3 linked regions of the Homo sapiens genome follow. The protein of the gene in region 3 binds, or shares a complex with, the protein of the main gene of each other region. Each region holds a gene or a part of one and is shown on either strand. Other genes may lie near its edges. The genes, in order: HDAC3, TBL1XR1 and CORO2A.

Region 1 (7,110 bases), on a different chromosome or scaffold from region 3:
AAGTAGTGCAGTGACCTCCCATACGTCCATCACCTAGCTTCAACGCTTATGAGCAAATGGCCACTCTTTTTTTTTTTTTTTTTTTTTTTGAGACAGAGTCTCACTCTGTAGCCCAGGCTGGAGTGCAGTGGTGCAGTCTTGGCTCACTGCAACCTCTGCCTCCTGGGTTCAAGCGATTCTCATGCCTCAGACTCCCGAGTAGCTGGGATTACAGGCGCCTGCCACCATGCCTGGCTAATTTTTGTATGTTTAGTAGAGATGGGGTTTCACTATGTTGGTCAGGCTGGTTTTGAACTCCTGACCTCAGGTGATCCACCAGCCTCAGCCTCCAAAAGTGCTGGGATTACAGACGTGAGCCATCGCACCCAGCTGAGCAAGTGGCCACTCTTACTTCATCTATACTCCCTCATGTTAGATTGTTTTAAAGCAGATCCTAGATGTTATATCCTTTTATCCATAAATATTTTATTATGTATCTCTAAATGATACTCTTTTAAAAAAACATAGTATCATTATCAAACCTAAAAAGTTAACAGTGATTCCTTAATGTCATCAAATATGGGATCAATATTCAAATTTCTGCAGTTGTCTCATAATTATTTTGTAGCTAATTTAAATCCAGATCTAAACAAGGTCTATACAGTGCATTTGGTTGATATGTCTCTTAAGACTTTTAATTTGTAGCTTTTCTGTCACCCCCTTGAATTTATTTCTTGAAGAAACCAGGTTGTTGATCCTGTAGAATTTCTTATGATAGCTACCATTTACTGAGTGCTTACTCTGCTAGGTATTATGCCAAGGGTTGCTGGTAAATCCACTTAATTCTCATACCAATCCTTAGATGTATTATAATAGACCTTTTTCTGATGTTATATATAAGTAAATTGAGGTTTGGGAATATCTAGGTAACTTAGCCGTAGTCACATAACTGGTCATTGGAGGGGGCATGATCCAGATCCCGGGTTTTTAAACCACTAATCTGTTTTCCTGAAAGATCTTAATGACAGAAGCAGCCAGGGCTGTAGGATAGAGGCCAACTCATTAGGCTGGCATTGGCACCTTTCCAACTTTATCCCTACACCTCAGCTGCACAGGATGCCTTCCTGGAATGCCCTTAGTTCTCTATTCAACCTCTTCAAGGCCTTCTCAGCCTTCACACCATCTCCATGAAACCTTTCTTGACCACACCAGCCCATAGAGCTCTGTCTTGCACACACTGCACTGCTCATTTGGTGTTCAGTCACATGCTGTTTGGGGAGGTTTCTTGTTTTTTTGTTAGTATTCCTGCTGTTATTTCTGAGCTCACTTTCTAGCTCTGTGAATACAGGGTCAGCCCTTACGCCACACTGGGGTCCCGTAGATGCTCTTTGTGCGATTAGGGAATGCTAATTAGAATACTATCTCTGGGCTATTTATGCTGCATCAGTCTTCCTGTCAAACAAGTTACAGTTGTGCTTATCTGTATTTCCGATGAGAATCAGGAATTTTTCTTCTGTTTAATGAATTTCTGATTGGTTTCAAAGTATTCTAACATAAGTAGCCAAATTGTACTATAGGCCTTTAAATGAAAAAAATAAAAAAGTAGTCCCAAGCCGGGCGCAGTGGCTCACGCCTGTAATCCCAGCACTTTCGGAGGCCGAGGCGGGTGGACCACCTAAGGTCAGGAGTTCAAGACCAGCCTGGCCAACATGGTGAAACCCCATCTCTACTAAAAATACAAAAATTAGTCATGTGTGGTGGCACGTGCCTGTAGTCCCAGCTACTCCAGGAGGCTGAGGCAGGAGAATTGCTTGAACCCGGGAGTTGGAGGTTGCAGTGACCTGAGATTGCACCACTGCACTCCAGCCTGGGCAACAGAGTGAGACTCTGTCTTAAAAAAAAAAAAAAAAAAAAATTCCAGACCTCTCCTTTTCACCCATAAATCCCTCTGCCCAGTGACAGCCACTTTCAGCTCCTTTCCCCTATGTCTTCTGGTATTTACCTTTGGATTTCTAAATAATAATATTAATTGACTGTTATTACTAATCTGTAATCCTTAGGTAATACCTGTTATATACTAGGTACTGTTCTAAGTGCTTTACAGCCATTAGCTTATTTAATCTCAACAACCCCTATGAAGCAGGGTCTATTATTGTTTCCTTTTACCGATGAGGACACTTAAGCACAGAAAGGTTAAACAGTTTGTACAACCTCACTATCATTAGTAGGTGTTAAAGAACCTAGGTAGTCTAGCTCCAGAATCGGTGCTTGTAATCATACTCCCCTCCTGTATTGTCTCTCATTGCTATTTCTTCGTCTGTCAATTTTAGGCATTATCTGTTAAGCTTTTAGTATGGGATATGAGCATTTAGTCTTCTTACACCATCACATTGGCTTCCTTTCCCCTTTCAGCTTCATAGTAATTTAAAAATAAATCAGTATTCTGTGTTTACATTATTATAACTCTGAAAGATTCATTTACTATCAAGCCAAATAGTGTAGTGTGATTTAATCTATTTTCTTCTAAAGCTTTTTGTTTTTCCTGGAGCTGACAATTGCATTATTTTTTCATTTGCTTAGTTTTCTGGTATTAATCACTAATTCTTTCCAAGCCTTTTGAGAAACTATAAAACCCTACAATTCTTGCTTGAACCCGGGAGGCGGAGGCTGCAGTGAGCCGAGATCGCACCATTGCACCCCAGCCTGGGCGACAGAGCAAGACCCCATCTCAAAAAACAAACAAACAAAAAACCCCTACAGTTCTGTTTTTCACATGGTCAAATGTATCAGCTGCACTATTTTTTTTTTTTGAGACCTAAAACTAGGGATTGCCTAAGCCTTTCCTTTTTAAAAAGTCAGGTTTATATAGGTATAACTTGCATACAGTAAAATTAACCTTTTTTAGGTGTAAGAGTTCTGAGAGGTTTGATAGAATATATCAAGGTATAGGGCCAGCGCCGATGGCTCACACCTGTAGTCCCAACAATTTGGGAGGCCAAGGCGGGAGGATCACTTAGGCCCAGGAGTTTGAGACCAGCTTGGGCAACATAGTGAGACCCTGTCTCTACAAAAAAAAAAAAAAAAAAGGTATCAAGGTACAGGAAATTTCCACTACCCAACAAAGGTCACTCACCCTTTTGTAGTTAATAACTTCTCTGCAACCTAGATCCAGCCAACTACTGATAAGATGTCTGTCCTTGTATTTTACCTTTTCCAGAATGTTACATAAATGGAGTCATACAGTAAGTAGGCTTTTGTGTCTGGCTTCAAGCCTTTACTTTTTATAAAGAATAACAATGGTAATAATTATAGCTGACATTTATTAAAGGCTGAGCGGATACTGTATACTGTGCTACAGGCTTTTCGTGGGTTATCTCATCACTGTTTCACATATGTAGGTATACAGTTCTTTCTTTAAAATATGTGACTGAAAAATATTATTGAACATTATGCTAAAATTTGTTACACTGAGAAGACTAAGAAAAACAGAGCTCATGTTTTCTTTCAACTGATTTCCTTTTTACATTGTACTTGAGTACCTGGAAGCTGCTTGCTTCTTTCCGCAGCTAGGATACAAACTCCCTGACAGTTAAGTGCTTCTTTACTTCCCATCCAGTGCCTTGCACAGGGCTTGGTACATGGTTTGGTCCAAAATATTTGTTGAATAAATTTGCAGATAGCCCACGTGTGTAGGAGAGGGAGAGAAGGTTCTTGAAAAATGGAGATTGGAGGAATCTAGGATGGGGAGGGAGATATGGGAAGGGCCCAGACAGAGGCAGGAGGGTTCCAACTTGTTCCTCTTCCCTGCAGCCCAGTGTTTCCCGGGCTCTTTGAGTTCTGCTCGCGTTACACAGGCGCATCTCTGCAAGGAGCAACCCAGCTGAACAACAAGGTGACATAGTCCCGAGTCCTGTTCTTCCTTTCCTCTGGATCCCTGGACTCGGGATTTAACCCTGATCCTGGGCTCCCAGCTTGAGGGGTGGGCAGGAAGGACTGTGACTTAGGTGTTTGTCTTTCAGATCTGTGATATTGCCATTAACTGGGCTGGTGGTCTGCACCATGCCAAGAAGTTTGAGGTGAGTGAGGAGGTGATGGGAAAGACAGTGGCCATCCTAGGGTAGGTGTTTAGGATGATGGTGGGGGGCAGCTGGGAGGGGAATTGCTCTTCTCTTTATGAGACCACTGTCTTGCCATAGGCCTCTGGCTTCTGCTATGTCAACGACATTGTGATTGGCATCCTGGAGCTGCTCAAGTAAGTAGCCCAGGAGGAGATGGGGGCAGTTACGGGATTCTTGGCTGAGGAGGTCTCTCAGTCTCAACCCTGACCTTGACCTCCCTCCTCCCTGATTAGCTTCTCCCAAGTTCTTGATGCTTTATTCAGGCTGCCTCTTCCACTGCTGCAGATTCCCTACTGCCTGCTCACATTTCAGCCTTCTCTGCATATCCCTCTCCTGTCCCTGCCTCTAGCCTCTAGGCTGGAGCCCCCAGTTGCCTTTAGGGAACTGGTGACATTAAGTTTCAGGTGACCAGGGCAGAAGCAGACTCTTCACAATTCGAGACCCGGTGTTTGAGAGGAGTGGGTTGGGGGGTTCACTTCTAGCTCAGACCCTGGCTTTGGCTTCCCTCTAGGTACCACCCTCGGGTGCTCTACATTGACATTGACATCCACCATGGTGACGGGGTTCAAGAAGCTTTCTACCTCACTGACCGGGTCATGACGGTGTCCTTCCACAAATACGGAAATTACTTCTTCCCTGGCACAGGTATGGGAATAGGGATTACTTTCCCCTTTGCACCCTTCAGCTCTTTACTATGAGTGCCTCCTTCTCAGCCTTCTAGTCTCATCTCAGGTGTCCCCTCCTCAGAGAAGCCTTTCCTTACCACTCCAGTTATCATAATCACCTCCTTCCCCATTCCTCTGTTACATCAGCCTCATTGTTTCCCTCAGAACACTCACTGCTATTTGTGTTTATTGTGGTTTTTTGTTTTGTTTTGTTTACTGCCTCCCTCCTCCTCATGGCTATTCCCTAAGAATATAAGCGTGGTGGGATATCGTAAATTTCATTAGTTCCATTCGTTGCTGCATCCCTACTGCCTAGTACACAGTTGGCTCAGAGTGGATCCCCCAAAACTATTTGCCCAATGAATGCAAGCTGCAAGAGATTTAGTGGCTCTAGGGAGTTTATGGTGAAGCTACATAGATGGAATGAGAGGCTCCCAGAGTGCAGATTGGGGCTGAAACAGCTGGGTTGTGGGTGCTTCCCATGTGTGGCTACCACCACCCACTTCCCTACAGGTGACATGTATGAAGTCGGGGCAGAGAGTGGCCGCTACTACTGTCTGAACGTGCCCCTGCGGGATGGCATTGATGACCAGAGTAAGTACCGAAGTCTTCCCTCTGTTCCCTAGGCCCCTTCTTTTTCTCCTTGAAATAACCTCTTCTGCCTGGTATTGTCTGCTGTTGGGCCAGTTGTCCTTAAGGATGAATGGCCTTCAGAGGGACCATGAATCTCTGGAAATTGTATGCAACATATCATGTGTATGTGCATTTTTCTGGGAAAAGTCATTGGCTTTCATCAGTCACTCATAGCAGTCTGGGATCCCTTCCAGAAGTTTCAGACCAGTGATTTGATTCTTTTGGGTGGCCCCTTTCCTGGGCTACATGCTCGCTCAACCCCCTTTTTCCTTTTGTTCCCTGTCTCCCCATCCCCTTGGGGTGCCAGGTGCCCATCTTTGGCCCTCTCCCAGGTTACAAGCACCTTTTCCAGCCGGTTATCAACCAGGTAGTGGACTTCTACCAACCCACGTGCATTGTGCTCCAGGTAATACTGTCAGTTCCTCCTCAGGAGTGTTCTGCCTGGGCTTGGGGAAAGAGAGCAAGGGAAGAGGAGGTTCTTTAGGTTGGTGGTGGAAGGGGTATCTGTGATGTTCTGATCAGTTCTGATCACTGCACTTTCCTGGGGTTTTGCTTTTTGCAGTGTGGAGCTGACTCTCTGGGCTGTGATCGATTGGGCTGCTTTAACCTCAGCATCCGAGGGCATGGGTGAGACTTGCTCTCCTTCTTCTCCCCAAGGTTTTTAAGTGGCCTTGGACTTCAGTACGTGGGTGGGGGTAGTTGGGGAATGGGCCTCACCTCTTCTTGGAAATCAAAAATAGCTACAAATTGTACTTGAACTAGAAATGTCATCTTGAACAGGGTTCCCTAGATGGTCATTCATTCACGATATATTTTTATTAAGCACCTGTTATGTTCCAGGCATCATACCACATCATGGGGATGGAATAAGGAGTCTCCCATGGAGTTTACAGTTTAGGAAACAGACAAAAAATAAATAATCAAATGAAATAAATAGATTCTTATAAATTCTGTGAAAGAAAAAAAGAAAGCTGAGACACAGGATACAATGGGGGACCTACTTGAGATAGCATGGTTTCGGAAAGTTTTTCTGAGGAAGTAAAATTTGAGTTGAGACCTGGAGACTAAGAAGGAGTGAGTCATAAGAGGAGCAGAGAGAAGCCTGACCCAAGCATGGACAAAGGCCCACAAAAGGCTCTGAGGGCTGGGCCCAGTGGCACACACCTATAATCCCAACACTTCCAGAGGCCAAGGTGGGAGAATCGCCTGAGGCTAGGAGTTTGAGGCCAGCCTGGGCAACATAGTGAGAGCCATCTCTACAGAAAATAAAAAACAAAATCAGCTGGGCATGATGGTGCATGCCTATAGTCCTAGCTACTCAGGAAGCTGAGGCAGGAGGATCACTTGAGCCTAGGAGTTTGAGGTTACAGTGAACTATGATTGTGCCACTGGACTTCAGTCTGTTGAGGTGAGGTCCGAGAAGCTGGCCATGGTGAGATTGTGCAGAGCCTTTAAACCCTGGTAAGGAGTTTGAATTATATTCCAAAGATGATGGGAAACCATTGAAGGATTTTAAGCAGGAAAGTGACATGATCCAATTTGTGTTTGAAAGTGACAATTCTGACTGCTGAATAGAGAAAGGTTTGGGTAGGGGGGATGGAGATGGAAGTAGAAAGACCAGTTAGGAAGCCATGGTGTTGGTTAGGTGCCCAGACTAAGGTGGAGGGGGTGGCAATGGAGAGAAGTAGATGATCTGAGAGGTGTGTGTGTGTGTG
Region 2 (7,560 bases), on a different chromosome or scaffold from region 3:
CAAGTTCTAGTGAATACCAATGTTTCTGCCATGCCTCTCCCCTGACTTCCTACCATTCACATTCTTCTTTATTCTTTTTATATAAATGACACCAAAAATTGAACAAACCCAACAAATTATTTCAACCAACTTCATCAAAATGTGTCAAGTCAGGAATTCTTTATAATAGTACTGCTACAAGTTGTACTAGGGAGATTCCTTTGTCAGCTACTCGTCTGACAAGGTTGTATATATACTGCACTGATAGATTTAATCAACAAGTTGATGTTCAAAAGGTCTATTAATACATTTCCTTTTATCAGTACCCCTTATATTTATATTACCTTCTGTTAGCTTGAAAGGCTCCTAGAACACAGGAAGCAGTTACCTCTAATTCTTTCGGGAGACTGGTGTCATGGTAATCATGCAAAACCTTTAATTAGGTGTCGAGAATACAAATATCAAAAAGATTCTTAGACATACGTATTAAAATGCTTAACACTTCTTTGAAGCAACCAATGCAAAAATATCATCTCTGCAAGGGGTCACTCCATTTACCACCAGTGTCTCCCACATTAATACCCAAAGCTGGTATACGTTAAAAGAAAAATGTCATAAACTGACGGTGAGCTTTGCAACAATTTTTATGCCATTAACATGTCACTTTATTAAGTTCCTTAGCAATAAGAAAAACTTTTCCCAGGCACGTAGTTTTCGTCCCCCATACAGTTTAGTATTTTGTCCTGTAGGTCGGATTCCAACAACTCAAACGTCAAAAAAAATAGTAGTTATTTATGAATTTAATGATTGCGATTACATACATCTCAGTGCAGGATAGGGTTGAAAAAAAAAATCATATTCCAAACAAGAAAACCTGGATTTAAGAGCAAGAAGCCTAATCACACATCACACGCCTAACTGCTCTCAGGCATACTTTCTTCCTGCAGCCCCTCCCCCACAGGTAAATGCTAACTATTTCTAGAACTCTCAACTATTTGGGAAGCTTGCCATCAACTCCCATGATACCACCCAACCCACACCATGTTTTCGGGGAGACAAAGGTGCCCTACTTCCCCAGACTATAAACTATTAAAATGGTGAGAACATACAATCCCAGGAAGTCGGCATTACTAAAATACATCAATGTAGCATGGGTCTTATTTTAACAAAAATGAAAATGAATCACACTGGAAAACCCAAACAGTCACTCATTGTATCTTCAACGTGTAATCGAAATTATTTATTCCAAGTTATTTCAGGTAAGTAGATGAACACACCACGAGGGCCTTATTATCCAAACTGGTGAAGAAGCCTTTAGGAAAAACGGAGGGGGAAGATCACTTAATTATATGAGGTGGGGGGTAGAGCAACCATTCAGTCTTAAAATTCAAACTAAAAATAACCTGGCATTTTCACCCCCCACATTTTATTAACAAGCTTGTTTAGATCAGCATACGGTTCCTGTTTGGAAAACAAGAAAGTGAATAGTAAACTTTCCTAAGTCAACTGTAAATCACATAGGTACTAAAACTCTTCACCCCTGGTGCCTGCACAGTCCAAGATTTCAAGTAAACTCCAGACACTGAGAACACCTAATTTTTAACTAGTTTCCAACATTTCTCATTTGTAATCACCAAATTATCTTAGAGACACTTAGATAACCTAACAAAGAGAGCATTTTTTAAAAGCCACAACCCAAATTTTACATGAAATACACCATTTTCACAACCTAAATTTAATCCCGGTTGCCACTGCGAAGTGATGCCTGTTTCAGCAAATTAAGAACTTCCAAAAATACTGAACACGTTAACACATGCATGGCTTCCCTCGAGCTGCCATTTAAGATTAATATTCCACTTAAATAAAAGTCTGCTTCTGTTCAAAAAATTAAATCGGTTGCAAAGAGGAAGTTACCGAGAAACCACCCTCACAACGTGGCCTTTACACTGTCAGAAAATAACGTGACTCTGTGCCACCCAAAACTTACCAGGAAGCTGGCAATAACTTTGCCAATTCTACACTCCTGAACCCAACTTCAAAGAGCCTCCACCAAATACCTCCTTAAGACGATAAAAAGCACTAAGTTACAAATAAACACGTCCCGGAGCAAGGCCCGGCTGCCGCGCGCCCCTCCCCCGGCCGGCGCCCCCGCCCCGGACGCGCGGCCCCAACAGCCGCCCGCAGCCCCCAGCACGCCGGCCGGGGTCGCCGCGCCCGGGCCGGGGACGCGCCCGGGGAGGGGAGATTTCCATTGCCGCCCGAGGTTTCACAAAATAGCATGCACCGAAAAGCTCCTTCTCCTCTGCTAAAAATAGGCTATAAAGGAGTCGGCCTCATGATGGCTCCTTGATTCAATTTGCTGCAAATCCTTTCCTGAAAGCCTCCCCCCCCAAACACACACGCACAAAAAGGGGGTGTAAATGCACGAAGGGAGGAAGAGGGGGAGAAGGCCGAGGTGCACATTTTCGGGGACAACATAATTAGGGTGAGGATCCCCCGAGACCGGGAAAGGGTAGGGGGGTGGGCAGGCACGTGAGCATTTCAAAGAAACCTGAGAGAGGAAAACGGGGGGATGGGGGCGCCCCAAGTGCCCTCCCTGCCTTCCCTTCCCCCACGCAAGCCCAGTTCCCCCAAGGGCCAAGTTGAAAAATGCATGTTCCACTCGCGCCCATCCCCCCGCGGCCCAGCGCCCCCGGCCGCCTCTGGCCCGCGCCCCCCGCCCAGGCCCCCGGCCGCCCCCACTCCAGGGTCCGGCCCCCAGCGCTTACCTGGAAACGGTGGCCTCCAACGCCGCTCCCCCCTCCCGGGAATGGAGGCACAAGGAAATTCCCCTCCTCGCCGCCGCCGCCACCGCCTCCAACCACCCCCAAAATAACCCCTCCGGGGGGTGAGAGGCAATTATAACCCCAGCGAGCGGAGGGCGCGGGGGATGGGCGCCGGGCGGGCGGGGGCGGGGAGCGCGGCGCGGGTCCCCAGGTGGCGAGCGGAGGTGCTCCCGCCGCGGGGGGAGGGGCGGGGGCGCACGCGGCCGGCGGCGGGGGGAGGCGGCGCGCGGGGGAAGGGCGCGAGCGGGGAGAGGAATTGAGGCAGAAGGTAAAAGCTGTTACTAAGGGAAAGAGCCAAACGGTTCGGAGCAGCCAACGGCTCAGACACTCAACACTGGGGAGAGAGGAATGGGGACCAGCCAGGCACAAATGAGCTCGCGAGGCCCGCGGCGGCGGCGGCGGCGGCGGCCGCGCAGCAAAACAAACCCGAGCGGCCTGCGCCGGGCGGGCGGGCGAGCGGGCGGGCGGGCGCGCGGGGGAGGGGCCGGCGGGGGAGGGGCGCCGCGGACGCCGGGAGGCGGCGGCGGCGCGGCGGGGGGGCTCCAGCGGCCGCGCTCCTCTCCTTCCCGGCCCGCTCTGGCGGCACTGGGGGCTGGGCTGTGCGGCGCATTCTTTTAAAAATCAGGCGAGCCCCGCGGGCACTCGAAGGCGCCTCGGGGCCCCGGGCCGCCCGCCCCGCCCCCACCGCCGCGGGCCGGCCTGGGTGTGCTCGGGTGTGGGCCGCTGGGCCCGAGACGGGTGGGGGCGGGGAGGCCCGCGCGGTGGCCGGGGTGGAGCCGCCGGCGAAGTTTCCCCAAGGACGCCGCGGGCTCCCGCGTGTCCGGGGGGCGGCCCGGCGGCGTTGGGGGCTGGGCGCACACGCGGCGGGCATGTGGGGGAGTGCGGCGCGGCATCATATGGACATTTGTTTGTGAAAATCTCTGTGAACACCTTTGTGTGCGTAAATACATATGGTTCTCCGAAGCGTACCTGGAAAGGTGCTTTATCTGTAATAAGCGACTTTCAAAATGTGATCCAGAGCACGGGATCTGGAGAGAAAACACGCACACAAGAAAAGGTTTTTGATACTAAACACAAAGCTGTAATTGAAGTATTTATGCCCAAATGTACTGTGAATCAAGCATATGGTGGTATTTATCATCTGGTGGGTCTGTTTGAAAGGTTTGCTCGATCAGTTCTTATTTCACAAAAATAAAATAATGTAACTAAATGTTTACTAAATATATACCTGCACAGTGGCATCCACAGTAGAAGTTTATCCACTTTGTGTACTTTTTGCATGTGTGAAGCACAGCAAGGCGGTTTATAAAGTATAACTTAGATGAGTGATAATGTGGCAGTATGGTTGAGGGAGGGTTGTTTTTAAAGAAGGGAGGCACCTCACAGGTTTTAAAGCAAATGGGGTGGTAATCTTTCTAAGACTTTCAGAAAGATGGGGTAGGGTGCTTTTTAGAGCTTTGTATAAGCTCAGGACTGGAGAAGCAGCCACCCTTTTACATTAAGATACGACTTGAAACCTTTTTGTTATTTCGCTTATTACTGCCTTCAAAGCAAAATAATGTTTGCAGCTTTCTTAAAGGTGAAGGGTTCTGTTTTCCTACTTTCATCAGAATATTTGAAAATAGATGTAGTGATCACTTTAAAGCAACCATCATTTCCTCTCAATATCAGAAACCTGAAGTTTTGCGACACACACACACACACACACACACACACACACACACACACACTACTCGTAACTTGCACCAGTCTGGACTCCTGGTGGCCTAATAAGTTCAGTAATTAGACAGGTGCTTTCTTGGCCAAGGTCAATGTCTCTTTCCCCCCTGAGCCCTTGCTTGGGGGAGCTGCCAGAGGCCTTTCCTGAATGACCTAGTGGGGCAGGGAGCAGGAAAACCATCAGAGGAAAGGGAGTGGGATTGGAAACTCCCTTCCAACCACCAGAGAGTTCAAAGCATATTAGTGGTGTGTCCTTAGAGCTATTTTCATGTATGAAAGTGGGAATGTTGGATTAAACAATGTCACCCGATGGGAATTTAGATAACTGCAGGTTTCCAAAACACTATGCAGAGTGTACAGGGAAACCGCACAAAGCAAGTTTTGCATTTCAATAGGATTCTAAAGCTGAGGCTTGTTTACCTCAGAACTAACACCTTTCAGAAGACTTTATTTCAGAATTGAAAAGAGTATATAGTATCTTCCTTTTTTTTTTTTTGAGTTGATAAATGACGTAGATATCACTAAACATACCCTGTCTTCAGTAAGTAAACTATCTCGGTGGAGCCACTCAATGAAACATATCTATTGGCTTAGATTATTTTTTAAGTTTCATATTGTGCCACCACGGGCGGGTCCTCTCCATACAGCAGTGACTGTAAAATCAAACCCCACTTTCAGTGAGTGAGGACTTCTCAACCATACCATTCTTAAAGCGTCATATTCAAAGCTGCCCACCCCACCCCTTCTCCTTCCCCTAAATGACTTCTATCCCTTATTCCACAAGGGAGGAGACACCCTCCTTCAGGTTCATAGGATCAGGTCTTCCAGCCTGAAGTTCTTATACCCTACACCAAGCTGCCTCCTAAAGTTGTTCAGTGTTAGTTGAGCCTCCTCACAATGATAATAATCCATGCATTTGTTTATATCCCTGTAGTTTACAAGACATTTCTGTGCGTAAATGACTGCATTTAAATATGAAGATCATCGAGGCTGGGGACTTACAAATCCGTTGCAGTAAAATGTACTTTACTCACCACTGTTGGATCATACTAATTGAAGAGAGAGGAGAGAGCAGGAGTACATTTTTTTTTTTTAGGTGGAGTTTCGCTCTTGTCGCCCAGGCTAGAGTGCAATGGCGGAATGTCGGCTCACTGCAACCTCTGCCTCCCAGGTTCAAGCGATTCTCCTGTCTCAGCCTCCCGAGTAGTTGGGATTACAGGCATGCACCACCACGCCTGGCTAATTTTGTATTTTTAGTAGAGATGGGGTTTCTCCATGTTGGTCAGGCTCGTCTCAAACTCCCGACCTCAAGTCATCTGCCTGCCTCAGCCTCCCAAAGTGTTGGGATTACAGGCGTGAGCCACTGTGCCCGGCAGCCTGGAGTGTTTTTAAACAAACAAACAAAAATAGGGGCACCCAAATGTGGAAAGGCCTTGATTCTTCCAGCAAAGGGGGTTTTAAATCAGATCATATTTTGATCCCTTTGATTTTTATATTCTGGAAACTATCTGAAACAACAGTGTGGCTTCAATGTTAAATACTCAGAGAAATAAACCATCACTCAAAGGTCATATGTATTGTCGCCTCGCCCTCTAGCTGTCCCAACATATCCAGCATAAAGGATCAGGGCTGCACCAAAATACAAGCAATGATTAGACTCACTGGGTGAGGAAAGGACAAAGAAGGAACTATTGTTACTAATATTCAGTACTTTGTCCTAATCTAACACTCCCATTACACTTTGAATTAAATGTTAATGTGTTTCTAGAAAGGAGATATTACTGTATTACTAAGAAATTGTAAAGCAAAGGAACACATTAAGTTCTCCGCTGGGTGTGGTGGTTCACGCCTGTAATCCTAGCATTTTGGGAGGCTGAGGTGGGCAGATCACTTGAGGTCGGGAGTTCAAGACCAGCCTGGCCAACATGGTGAAACCTCGTCTGTACTAAAAATACAAAATATTAGTCGGGCGTGGTGGCGGGTGCCTGTAATCGCAGCTACTTGGGAGGCTGAGGCAGGAGAATCGCTTGAACCCTGGAGGCGGAGGTTGCAGTGAGCCGAGATAGTGCCACTGCACTCCAGCCTAGGCGACAGAGTGAGACTCCGTCTCAAAAAAAAAAAGTTCTCTCTTGAATTTTCTAGCTAATTACTCAATGAAGAGAAACCTCATACCAGTAACTGTTATCAGAAGTTACTATATATTGTAAAATGGCTAAACAAATCCTGACTTGTTTTGCCGGGTGCAGTGGCTCACACCTGTAATCCCAGCACTTTGGGAGGCCGAGGCGGGCGGATCACGAGGTCGGGAGTTCGAGACCAGCCTGACCAACATGGTGAAACCCCGTCTCTACTAAAAATTCAAAAATTAGCTGAGCGTGGTGGCACATGCCTGTAATCCTAGCTACTCAGGAGGCTGAGGCAGAAGAATGGCTTGAAACCGAGAGGGGGAGGTTGCAGTGAGCCGAGATCTTGCCATTGCACTCCAGCCTGGGCGGGTGACAGAGTGAGATTACATCTCAAAAAAAAAAAAAAAAAAAAAACAAATCCTGACTTGTTTTATTTCAGTAATATTTTTCCGAGAGGAGTGTGGCATGGCAAGATAGCCTACACATTTGCAACTTTCATCGCTAAAGACATGGAACATTTTAAATTGAAACTGCTTCAATCCCAGGACTACAGGGTCTCATTACTATATATATTTTTAAATCATCATGATGTTTTAAATTGTTTACATTAGCTCATCTACATAAAGTATTCAAAACAAACTTAATTGTATAAAAAAGACATTTGATACCAAAAATATTCTCCTAGTGCTATAACTCATTTTATATTCTTTACTCACCCTGGAATTCAGTGGCTTTACGTCTGTAGCGTTTACCCCCAGGCGTCTTGCTGATACTCTGTGATGTTTCCGTTTCATTTTGACTTACCTTGTGCAATTCTTTGTGGTTCTTCCGAGATGAGGCACATGCCAACCACACATCTCAAGATGTCAGTACACAAGCTGCTTTTCTCCTTCAGTGCATAGCGTGTTGCT
Region 3 (6,273 bases):
CAGCAGAACACAGGCTGGAGGAGAAGAAAACCTGGCTGACAAATGGCTTTGACGTTTTCGAATGCCCCCCACCAAAGACAGAGAATGAGGTGTGAAGGAGGACGGGGTGGGCCTTTCACATGGGGCAGCTGGGGTGGAGGGGAACAGATCCAGGCTGAGAAGAAGGGAGAAAATGAGGCATGAGAAGAATAACCAGCTGTGTGGCCTGGCCTAGTCACTTGACTCATTTTGTTAATTCATTCAACAAACAGGCAGTGAGCTCCATCTTATGCCAAAATGATGGGCATACATAAAGATGGTGGGAGGCTGGGCACAGTGGCTCACTCTTGTAATCCCAGCACTTTGGGAGGCCAAGGCGGGCAGATCATGAGGTCAGGAGTTCAAGACCAGCATGGCCAACATAGTGAAACCCCATCTCTACTAAAAATACAAAAATTAGCCGGGTGTGGTGGCGTACACCTGTAGTCCCAGCTACTTGAGAGGTTGAGGCAGGAGAATGGCTTGAAATTGGGAGGTGGAGGTTGCAGTGAGCCAAGATCACACCACTGCACTCCAGCCTGGGCAACAGAGCAAGACTCCATCTTAAAAAAAAAAAAAAAAAAAGATGGTGGGGACCAGGTGACCAGGTGCAGTGGCTCACACCTGTAATCCCAGCACTTTGGTAGGCCAAGGCGGGTGGATCTCTTGAGGCCAGAAGTTTGAGACCAGCCTGGCCAACATGGCGAAACCCCGTCTCTACTAAAAATACAAAAATTAGCTGGGTATGGTGGTGCGTGCCTGTAGTCCCAGCTACTCTGGAGGCTGAGGCAGGAGAATTGCTTGAACCCAGGAGGCAGAGGCTGCAGTGAGCCAGGATCACACCACTGCGCTCCAGCCTGGGCAACAGAGTGAGACTCTGTCTCAAAAAAAAAAAAAAAAAAAAAAAAAATGGTGGGAAACCATCTGTAAAATGGAGAGGGTTTGACCTAGTGGGTATCAAAGTCTTTCCAGTTCTGACATTATAGGACTTTCTGTGCTTTCAAAGTCCACATTTGTTTAGTGCCTACTGTGTGGCAGATCCTGGGGTAGGCACTTTGATACAGCACGTGATTGAATTCTCTCAACAGCCCTGGAAGTCAGTCTGTAGTGGCTAAGAACACAGAGGCTGGCATCTCACAGATGGATTCTGATCCTGGCTCTGCTGAGTACTAATTTAGGGTCTTAGACCCAGAGACTGAATGTCTCTAAGCTTCCGTTTCCACGGTGGTACGGTGGGGACACTAGCACTGCCACCCTTATAGGGGTGTCACAACGTTCCAGTGGGATAACGAGGCCCTTAGGGCATCACTCAATATCTAACACCCATTCTGCACAGAGGGCAGTTTTCTGACCCCATTTTCCAGAGGAAGGAATGGAAGCTCAGAGTGGGTAAGTAACTTGCCCAAGGTCACACAGTTCAGTGGTGGCGAAAACACCAATCCCCAGACTTCAGAGCCAGGCATCCTTTCCTCTATTTCATGGAGGATCTATGGAAGCAAAATACATCTGAAACATTCCAGTCTTCTTGAATTTCATTTATTGGGTGAAGTAAACAAGGTGTTTGTAAAAGATCTATGCAGTGACAGCCCCATCAGGCCTCAGCCATGTTAATGTGACCGCCTCCACCTTTCTGAGTCAAAGAGGGATAGTGGTTTAGCTTTCAGCTGGTGTCCTGACACCATGGTGATCCTGCCTTCCGATCTTTCTTCCCCAGTTGCTGCAGATGTTCTACCGGCAACAGGAGGAGATCCGAAGGCTCCGGGAGCTGTTGACCCAGCGAGAGGTCCAGGCCAAACAGTTGGAACTGGAGATCAAAAACTTGCGGATGGGCTCAGAGCAGCTCTGAGCAGAGACCTCTGCCCTCCTCACCCTCAGGGACACCACTCGGCTCCATGGGGAGGTTTAGAACCAAACCACAAGTCCCCTCAAGGACAACCACTATTTCTATATTTTTTACCAGAAAACAAAACTCTCCATCGCTGAAAGAGATTCCAGTGGGACATGGTGCCGTTTTTCTGTTTGCCTTCTTGCAACAACAGTTTCTGAATTGACTTTGTTTTCAGATGATGCCTTCTGTTGAATTCTGTTATTAAGGGCCCATGATGAGCTGTAACTTCTCAAGAGGAAAGAACACAGTAGAAAACTAGAGCTGGAAGGATCTAGGTTGACCTGTCTGTGATTTTCAAACTGTGGTCCAGAGAATAGGGGAAGACTGGGCCAGACGCAGTGGCTCATGCCTGTAATCCCAGCACTCTGGGAGGCTGAGGTGGGCGGATTGCTTGAGGTCGGGAGTTTGAAACCAGTCTCACCAGGCGCAGTGGCTCACGCCTGTAATTCCAGCATGTTGGGAGGCCGAGGCTGGTGGATCACGAGGTCAGCAGTTCGAGACCAGCCTGACCAACATGGTGAAACCCCATCTCTACTAAAAATACAAAAAAATTAGCTGGGCGTGGTGGCAGGCGCCTGTAATTCCAGCGACTTGGGAGGCTGAGGCAGGAGAATTGCTTGAAACCGGAAGGCGGGGGTTGCAGTGAGCTGAGATTGTGCCACTGCACTCTAACCTGGGCAATAAGAGCAAAAGTCTGTCTCAAAAAAAAAAAAAAAAGAAAGAAACCAGCCTGGCCAACATGGTGAAACCCCGTCTCTACTAAAAATACAAAAATTAGGCAGGGCGTGGTGGTTCACGCCTATAATCCCAGAACTTTGGGAGGCCAAGCTGGGCGGATCTTCTGAGGTCAGGAGTTCAAGACCAGCCTGGCCAACATGGTGAAACCCCGTCTCCACTAAAAATAAAAAATTAACCAGGCATGGTGGTGCATGCCTGTAATCCCAGCTATTTGGGAGGCTGAGGCAGGAGAATCGCTTGAGCCTGGGAGGCGGAGGTTGCAGTGAACCAAGATCATGCCACTTCACTCCAGCCTGGGTGACAGAGTGAGACTCCGTCTCAAAAAAAAAAAGTTGGCCAGCCGTGGTGGTGAGCGTCTGTAGTCCCTGCTATTCGGGAGGCTGAGATAGGAGAATTGCTTGAACCTGGGAGGTGGAGGTTGCTATGAGCCACGATTGCGGACTGCACTGCAGCCTGGGTGACAGAGCGAGACTCCATCTCCAAAAAAAAAAAAAAAAAGAGAGAGAGAATAGGGGAAGACTAAGCAGGAAGGCTGTGTCTCCCTTCCCCACACTGTATTCCAACCAGACAGCTCCCTTCTATTTTATATGTTGGGCTAGTATGAAAAACAATTCTGCTAGGAAAAAAAAATTTTTTTAGAAGTTTGAAAGCTAGTGATTTGACCCAAGTTCCTCATTTTACAGCTGGGGAAACTAAGGCCTAGAGAGAGGCAAGTGATATTTGTTTCATGGCAGGGCTGGGCTGAGATCCTGCTTTTCTGGGTCTGTCTTTTTGCTCTTTTGGGTCTGATGCAGTTCTCAGCCCAAAGAGTAGAAATCTGTTGCTTCTGGCCTCAGCTGTGCCCCAGCTTACTCAGTGACCTCTTGCAAGTCCTGCCCTCTCTGGTCTCAGTTTCTTCATCTGAACCAGGGGTACCCTGGAACAAGCTGCTCTCTGCAGGATCTGCCACCTGAAACCTTGACCTAAGAGAAAACTACCTGTGGGGTGATCTGGGTTTGCTACAGAAACTAACGGACACTGGCAAGGGGTCAGAGGCATTCAACCCAATTCTACAACACAGGCAGGTGGTCAAAACCAACCTTTCCAACCAGAATCAGCCTGATATGGATAGATGCTGTCCCTTATGGAGGGACGCAGACTTCAGAACTGTGCCCATGACTGCTGACTGCCACCACCAAGGCCCTCAGGTACACAGCCTGCCTCCTGCAGGATGATGTGGGCAGATTTCAGCCCTAGTTAACAGAAGAGTCCCCCAGGAGGTAGGGGGCCCCCATCACTGGAGACATGCCAGCAGAGCCTCTGGCCACCTAACCAGGAGGTCTTCTGAAATGACTATACGAGGTAAAGAAGTAGTACCAGATGGTCCCAAAGTTCCCTTTTAGCCTGAAAGCTTTTCTTTGTCCCTCCTTAGTGAATCTGTGTTCCGAGCCCTACTCTAAAGTTCAGTGGTCAATACAATAGTCCACCAAGAGACTGGGAATGATTAGAAGTGAAATTGGTCCCTCCTTACCAAGGAGGGGCAGATGATCTCCATTGCACAGGGCGATTAGATTCTGGAGCTGAGGTGGGGACTGCAGGAGGCCACCTAGTCTGGTAGGTTTCAACCCAAGCTGTGTACATTAGAATTCCCTTGGGAGCGTGCAGGAAATACAGATGCCCATGCCACATTCCAGACCAACTGAAGCTGAATCTCCAGAGTAGGGCCTGTATGGTCATATAAGCTCCACAGGTGATCTGCAGTACAGTGAAGATGGAAGACTGCATGTGTACCTATTTGCAATAAAGATGAAGAGGACAGCAAGCTCCAGACAGGAGCTGGGACTCAACCCAGATCTCTTAAGTCCTGCCTGGTGGCTCCTTAAAAGTCCAGAAGTGTTGCCCCAAGCCCTCCCTCAACATCTCTGGGAACCGCAGCTGCAGCACGATGGGGGTTCAGTGCCCCTGTTTGCCCCTTACCCAGCTGTGGTTTATTCTGCTTGTATGTCTGCACAGGCCGGATGCTCGTGTTCCTTGTCTTATTCTCCATTTACTCAGTCACTGGGGCTCACTCCCGTCTGATGCACTAGCCAAGATTGCCTTAGTGTGCTCCAGAAAAGAAGGCCAAATCCCAGGCATTGTCAGGGCAGCAGAGCTCTACAGGATAGGCTTACCTTTCCCACCTGTGTGGCTAGCACTTCACAGTTTACAAATTCCTCCCACCTCCACTCAGTGACACATGCTGTTCTAACACAGGTCAGGCAGGCATTACAGTCCCCATGTTCAGAATCAAAGACCTAGCCTCAGAGAAGTGAAGAAACATCATGCCAAGGTCATTGACTGCCAAGCGGTAGAGGTGGGGTTGCATCCAGAGAGCTTCCCGGTATGCCTCTGCACAATGCCATTCCTTGGCCAGCTCCCTCCACCCCAAGGGACCCAGACTGCACACTTAACAAACAGGACACAGGTGTCTTTGAACAAACTTTTTTGTATTATTATTTTTACATCTAGAATAAATTATTTAAATTATTTCACAGCAAGGGAGAGGGATAGGTAATTTTTATCAGATATTTTTTTAAACCATCTGTTTTTTAAATTACATTTTTGTTTATGTTCTTGAGCTGATGTAGTGGAACTTGCCTAGCACATTCAGGTCCCAGCCAGTTGGCAGAGCATGCTCTCATCTCCTTATTCCATACCCTGGGCGTCCCCTTTCTGTTGACTCAGGAACTTTCTGAGAATGAGGACAGCACTAGGAGATGAGCTTTGGCAGGTATCCACCTTAACGCTACAATAATTGTGCTTCCTGAAACAAAACTTGAGATTGTATCATAGAAGGAAACAGGAAGTCAGAAATCAAATCTATGCTTTTAATTGAAACCGTGCCTGAAACAGTTTGAATGATTGTTTTAATGTTGTTTCTGAAATTCCTTGTACCTTTGTGAAAAATAATGATAATAAATAAAAGTGAAAATAAATAGATGTGGAATATGCAATGGAAATAATGTAACAAAATAATAAACATCTGGCCATTTTACTACAAGGAGCTTTCCTTTTCTTGATTTGTTCCACAAATACCAATTAACTATCTACTCTTGGAGTCAGACACCAAGCTGGAAAACAGGCAGAACAGACAGTCTTTGCCCTCTCCAGTTTTCAGTCATGGCTGCGGGAATGGGGAGGGCCAGGATAGGGAAAGCATAGGCTGTTCTGGAAGGAGAAGGAGGGAAGGCTTCCTGGAGGAAAAGATAGTAAGGTAGAAACCTGCAGAGTAAGTTGGAATACTCAGGGCAAAGGGCATTTGGGAAGAAGAATGTTCCAAGCAGGGTAAACTGCACGTCCCCCAGTCTTGAAAAAGCACAGGGTGGAGCATAGGCAGGGCGGAGACCAAGGATCTTAAGAAAGAGCTGAGGGCTTTATAAGTGGAAGTCTAGACTTGAGCCTGGGGGGGCAACTGGAATTTGGGGTGGTGGTGTGTGTGTGAAAGTTGTCAGTACCAAAACAGAGTCACTTACATCAAAACCAAACTAAATGGTGCTCCTGTAGTCCCAGCTACTCCAGAGATGAGGTGGGAAGATCACTTGAGCCCAGGAGTTAGAGGCTGCAGTGAGCTATGATCGCACTATTGCACTCCAGCCTGGGCAACAGAGCGA

What was found.
Region 1: CORO2A (region 3) and HDAC3 share a complex: the UniProt entries of both Homo sapiens proteins name them as parts of the N-Cor repressor complex.
Region 2: CORO2A (region 3) and TBL1XR1 share a complex: the UniProt entries of both Homo sapiens proteins name them as parts of the N-Cor repressor complex.

The regions. Positions count from the first base shown.
Region 1 is NC_000005.10:141,626,805-141,633,914, reverse strand, and holds part of HDAC3 (histone deacetylase 3), read left to right. Parts: intron 1-3,789; coding exon 3,790-3,871; intron 3,872-3,998; coding exon 3,999-4,055; intron 4,056-4,175; coding exon 4,176-4,231; intron 4,232-4,608; coding exon 4,609-4,742; intron 4,743-5,275; coding exon 5,276-5,356; intron 5,357-5,702; exon of another isoform or gene 5,703-5,727; coding exon 5,728-5,801; intron 5,802-5,957; coding exon 5,958-6,022; intron 6,023-7,110. UniProt on the Homo sapiens protein: Histone deacetylase that catalyzes the deacetylation of lysine residues on the N-terminal part of the core histones (H2A, H2B, H3 and H4), and some other non-histone substrates.
Region 2 is NC_000003.12:177,194,374-177,201,933, forward strand, and holds the start of TBL1XR1 (F-box-like/WD repeat-containing protein TBL1XR1), read right to left. Parts: upstream 3,110-7,560; 5' UTR 2,748-3,109; intron 2,106-2,747; exon of another isoform or gene 1,967-2,105; intron 1-1,966. UniProt on the Homo sapiens protein: F-box-like protein involved in the recruitment of the ubiquitin/19S proteasome complex to nuclear receptor-regulated transcription units. Plays an essential role in transcription activation mediated by nuclear receptors.
Region 3 is NC_000009.12:98,120,365-98,126,637, reverse strand, and holds the end of CORO2A (coronin-2A), read left to right. Parts: coding exon 1-89; intron 90-1,732; coding exon 1,733-1,864; 3' UTR 1,865-5,663; downstream 5,664-6,273.